2 separate regions of the Homo sapiens genome follow, and region 1 is linked to region 2. Evidence: fine-mapped expression QTL. A gene starts in region 2. The other region holds a variant in brackets. All regions are shown on one strand. Distances are between the middles of the regions.

Region 1 (2,923 bases), 19 kb before region 2:
AGGCTCTGACCTATTTTGCCCTGCCTGGATTGGTTTTAACATCATGTAGATAGTAAGTAACAAACTCATTAAACCATTTCCATTCTTGTCTTAGGGGACAACGTGGTGCCCTCCCCTTTTACATGTTGCTTCTCTTATCAGCTTCACTGGCTTTGTCTACTAACCCCATGCCTGGGGAATTATAAGGAAGGGATTCGGGCACCGTGTTGTCTGCGGCATGAATCTTGCCAGGCTGTGGCTGTCACCAAGGTTATTGGACACTCCTCCCTGAGCAGGACCCACCTGGGAGGCATGCAGATGACAAGTGCCACTCAACCTTTTCCTCAGTGCCTGCTGGGCCCCGTGTGCATGTTCAGGTAATGAGAGGAACCTCGGAGCAAGTGGAGTAAGTGAGTGTGGTCACTCCAACAACAGACCAACCCATGAGAGGTCTGATTTCACGTTAAAATGGGAAATATTTGGTTGAATGGAATTGACGGAAAGGCAGGAATAGCCTTTCTCATTCCCTCATGGATAGAAAAAATGCACAAACCACGTTATCTGTTGGGTTGCATGGAATCGCTCTGACTGTTTTATTACCACCATTCACGTAGCATTTTATGTGAAAGGGAATGCTGGGCGCAGTGGCTTACGCCTGTAATCTCAGCACTTTGGGAGGCCGAGGTGGGTGGATCACCTGAGGTCAGGAGTTCAAGACTAGTCTGGCCAACATGTGGAAACCCTGTCCCTACCAAAAATAATAATAATAATAATAATAATAATAATAATAGTAATAAATTAGCCAGGCGTGGTGGCGGGAGCCTGTAATCCCAGCTACTGGGAGGCTGAGGCAGGAGAATTGCTTGAACTTGGGAGGTGGAGGTTGCTGTGAGCTGAGATTGCGCCACTGCACTCCAGCCTGGGCAACAGGGCACCACTCCGTCTCAAATAAATAAATAAATAAATAAGAAAAAAAGAAAGGGAATGCAGGTGTGAAAGCTTCCGATTCGTCACCTAGCAAAATTACACTGAAAAGTCCCCAAGCTCTTTGAACCAACTGCAAGGTCGTCAGCTTGTAGCCTCAAGTCCTCATGATCTATCCCATTACTTCATATCTCAAAAAGTCTTAATATGTGTTTTCCACAGTGATGGCCTCTCATTGGCCACCATGTCACTCTCACCTCAGGGTAAAGAGGTTGTGTCATGCGGCTTAAAACCTGGGCACATAGATGGTTACTTTGGCAGCGTTCTTATATAAACAGA[T/G]GAAGACAGCTGATAACATTAGCAACTTCCTGTGTCATCTCGTTTTTCTCGGGCACTTGCTTCTCTGAGATTATTTATGTTTTCTGTATTAGTCCATGGCAACCGCTTAACACAGCTGCACCAAATGTCATTCCCAGAAAGATCAGTTGCTTAGTCTCCTTGCCTCCATTCTATTTTGGGAGTGGCATGGACTTTTGGCGATGCCCAGTTGAGCTCTTGTCCACATCAAGTTATGAGCGGTGGTTTGTAAGAGAGTTTGCCCCTTGGCCTTGGTCTTTAGGAGAAAAAATAAATTCTATTCATTTACTCACATGCCATCATTACTCATATTTAAATTCTAAAAGATTAAAAACAAGAAACATTTTTTTCTGCATTAAGAAATCTAAAGTTTTAAAAAATCTCTAATAATGAACTGAGGTAATACATGCATTGATAAACAAAATGGAAATAGTATAGAAAAACAGAACTGATAAACTGATAAAAACATAACTGATAAACAGCTGCCTCCATTTCACACTTCCTCACCCTAGCAACTCCTAGATCATCCCAGAAAACATTTCTACTTTTATTCCTGTTGGTTGCCTACAGAACTCTAAATAATATATTTTCACATCTCTTCTTTGACCTTTTTAAAAATTAGCCTTTTTTTTTTTTTGAGACAGAGTCTCATTCTGTCACCCAGGCTGGAGTGCAATGGCATGATCTCCGCTCACTGCAAGCTCTGCCTCCCGGGTTCACGCCATTCTCCTGCCTCAGCCTCCCAAGTAGCTGGGATTACAGGTGCCCGCCACCACACCCGGCTAATTTTTTGTATTTTTAGTAGAGACGGGGTTTCACCATGTTAGCCAGGATGGTCTTGATCTCCTGACCTTGTGATCCCCCCGCCTTGGCCTCCCAAAGTGCTGGGATTGCAGGCGTGAGCCACTGCGCCCAGCCTAAAAAATCAGCCTTTTTTTTAACACAGCTTTATTGATGGGTAATGTACATATCATAAAACTCACTAAATGTGTAATGAAATGAATTTTAGCAAAGTTACAGAGTTGTGCAAGCATCCCCACAGCCCAATTTTAGAACACACCTATCACTTCAGAAGATCCCTCTTGACCACTTGCAGTGATTTCACTCTTCAGTCCCAGCCACAGGAATTCCTAATTTCTTTACTGGTTCTATAGATTTGCCTATTGTAGACATTTCATAAAAATGGAAATAACCAATCAAATTCAGACAATATTTATTGACTTTCTGATACAAAAGATAAAGATTTATCTCGCTTATAGAACTGCCTTCCCTGTCTCTATTTTCCCCAATTTTTGGTAATTATATATTATTTTAAAAATTCCTATGTTGGCTTTTTTCTTTTTCAGACGGTCTCACTCTGTCACCCAGGCTAGGATGCAGTGGCGTGATCTCGGCTCACTGCAACCTCCGCCTCCCGGATTCAAGTGATTCTCCTGCCTCAGCCTCCCAAGTAGTTGGAACTACAGATGCACACCACTGCGCCCAGTCAATTTTTGTATTTTTAGTAGAGACGGGGTTTCACCATGTTGGCCAGGCTGGTCTTGAACTCCTGGCTTCAAGTGATCCGTCCGCCTCAGCCTCCCAAAGTGCTGGGATTACAGGCATGAGCCACCGCACCCAGCCTATGTTGGCTATTTTTGTCATTTTAAGCAATATATTCCTT
Region 2 (2,923 bases):
AACAAAGCTGCAGTTGTGTTTAGTAAAGGTTTATCAAATGGATGAAGACTGGTCACTATTAGTCTTGACCCCTTCTATTTGAAATATGTGAAATACACAAAGTAAAATATAATTTCTGATAGGGGCTGATATCAGGAACTGTAGGAGATCTGTCCATTGAACCCAAGGTCTTACCTATTAAATCTCTACTGTTGCCAGTCTGCGCTCCTGGATTTTCAAGGGGCTCCGTGGAATTGGGAGGCTGATGAAGCTGGTGACCACCCTCCGTAAGCATGCTGTGTTGGTGATTCCAGTGCTTACTCCTTTCCTCAAATGTGGTCATAAGAAGTCAGGAAAGTCAATATGCTTTCACTAGGAAAAAAGGAGGAAAGCCTGCTTTAGTTGGTTGTTACATTTTTGATGAGGCGAAAATTCAAACAAAACTGTAACCACAAGGACCATTAATTGTTCTTTCCTGCTAATAACCATAGTTAGCCAATTGGATTGTGAGTGTGTGGCATGCTTGTATTGTGTATGTGAGTAGGGAATGCACGTGCGTTAAAGTTCACATGTGCTTAAGAGCTTAGACACACCCGCAATTTGCAAGACAGCTTCATGTCCTGATGTGGCCAAAGCTGTGTAAGAAGCCTGAGCTGTAATTACTCCGCACAAATTTACATCCTGGGGTACTCACATCATCCTGTGGTCTGTATGCTCTGTGGCTACACACCTGGCTGAGAACAGAATTAATGATGAGAAACGTGCCTGCTTCTCTGCATAAAAGATGATGTCTGAGTAGAAGGTCGCCAAGGGAGGATTAAGAGCAAGAATGCGAGAATGTGCTCAGGAATCCGTGCGTGAGATGATGAGCTTGTGAGCTGATGTTGATTCTGTGCAGTTCCCAGTGTCTTATTCACAGGCAAGATTTTCTTGCTCATCGTTCAGCCTTCAATGTTTTAAGCAAAGATTTTTAAAAAGATCTAACAGGAAACGAGGAGCTGCAGTGAAGCTTGGGCAGTCAGTTCGAATCTGAATAAATATTTGTCAGATTGGAGAAGCGCTGAAAGCATTAAGATACTTGGAGATTTCTCTTTTTCTTTGGCAAGAAGCATGACTGAGACAGGTAAGGGCTAGGAATTCTTCCGGATCACTCCCTCCAACAATGGTCTTTCCTTTGAATTTGCACTTTGGAGTCTGACACAGATTAGTGCTTCCTAGTCCTCTAACTGTAACACATGCCTCAGTTTCCCTTCTCCGATAAGATTGCAATATCTTTGGGTGCAGGAAAAAAAATAGTTGATCCTTTTCTTTGTAGCCCAGCAAGTTCCAGGCACATTAGAAACTGATTAGAAACTGGTACACAAGTGTTACTTGCTTAATTTATTATAAATGCTTTAAAAATGAGGCAATGACTATCATTGAAAAATAAAACCAAACTGTGAAGAACTTCTCTCTTCCTGTTAGTGGAGACTTTCCACAGAATTTTTTTTTTTTTTTGGGAGGCAGTGGACATGTTGAGTTTTCAATTGAATATTTTGCTGCAAACAACTTAGGAGGAGAGGAAAAAAGAAAACGCAAAGCCAAACAAAGCTGGTATTTTTCAAGTGCTCATTAATTTCAAAACCACGGTGTCTTTCATTGATTTTTTACCATTAAAAAGGACAGCAATGCCCATCTGCTCAAAATTCCATCCAGAAATGAAATTATGAATTAAAGCTGTGTTACACATGCACAATTGAGACATCCTCTGTTTGGGCCTGCCAGATGACACACTGAAACAGCCTGGGGTCTGCACTTGGGGTGCTGCCAAGGAAGCAGATACACGGCTGATGAAAATCATCCATCATTTCAAATCAGAGGTGCCATATTCCTGCAGACTCCTGTTATGAACAATCTCATTTGATCTTACATTGGAACAAGCTGTCTTCAACACTCAGGCCTGGCCCCAGGCACAACGAGGCAGATGGAATAGGAATCTCTCATTCCATGCCTGCATTTGCCGGAATTCTAGGATTTTGTCAGAAGTTTTCTTGTGTGAACCTAGCCTGACAGGATTAACTTCACTGAGTTGTGCTTCAATATCAGTTCTTACCTCCTTCAATTTGTGCCAAAACTCTCATGGAGGACAGTGTTCATCATTTTTTCACTTAAAACCATATATATGAGTCATTATATAGAGCGATTCTTTTTAGATTCAGTTTCCGGGAAAAAAATTAAAAAGTCACATGATCTTTCTGTCTGCTAATGATATTATGCACGTTGCTCTTGTCTCTATTTTTGCCTTGGCCTCCAGGAAGCTCACAGCCACGTTTTACACTCAAATACAGAAATAATATTACCATATGCTAGTATTACCGTATTTGTGATACTCTTTTCTGTTGATCCTTAGTTTCCATTTCCATTCTTCTTTTATTAAGCCTAACACGTTTTTTGTTGTAAGCTATATCAAAATCATTTTGGAGAAAGGCCAGGCTTATATAAATGATAAAGCATAACCATCTTTTATTTCCCAGCCAAGTGGTTTGTGTTTTAGAGTATATACTTTTAGAAGAAACAGATTGTTTCTTTAAACAGATGAAAATCAAATATCTTCCTTCTTCATGAAGTTAACCACGGTTAGATCATCCACATTGATACAGATGCCTGATAAAAGATCAGGATTGCGTTTGACAACCAGGTTTCTCTTACACATTCTCAGCAGCTTTCAGTCTCTGAAGTTTTTAGTCTTCTTTATTTACTACATTAATCTTGAGAGTAAACAAGGTTCTTATCAAAAATTAATATTTTAATATTAAAAGAATTTATTAGAAAATAATTTATTTAATCTTTTAATATTTAAAAGATATTAAATAAGTTTACAAAGACAACAGCAACTAAGAATGACCATGACTGAATAGAGCAAAACTGTACTAAAATACAACAAATAAAATAAAGGAATATATCC

Alleles and levels. Alleles are on the strand shown, and positions count from the first base shown. SD is a standard deviation of normalised expression in the study named.
With allele G in place of T in region 1, the expression in atrial appendage of the gene that starts at base 1,353 in region 2 is higher (large effect, 0.81 SD a copy in GTEx).

Evidence for each region. PIP is the estimated chance that this variant, and not a neighbour inherited with it, causes the effect.
Region 1: its variant is fine-mapped to the expression of LINC00327 in atrial appendage (GTEx, PIP above 0.99).

What each region holds. Positions count from the first base shown.
Region 1 is chr13:23,486,998-23,489,920 of GRCh38, reverse strand. LINC00327 (long intergenic non-protein coding RNA 327) reads right to left here. Exons shown (of 3, transcript NR_038995.1): 3 at 2,457-2,923. Among named protein-coding and RNA genes, the nearest start is that of LINC00327, 19 kb to the right of the region's middle. The variant T/G (reference allele first, on the strand shown) is at 1,243.
Region 2 is chr13:23,467,942-23,470,864 of GRCh38, reverse strand. LINC00327 (long intergenic non-protein coding RNA 327) reads right to left here and starts at 1,353. Exons shown (of 3, transcript NR_038995.1): 1 at 674-1,353; 2 at 175-351.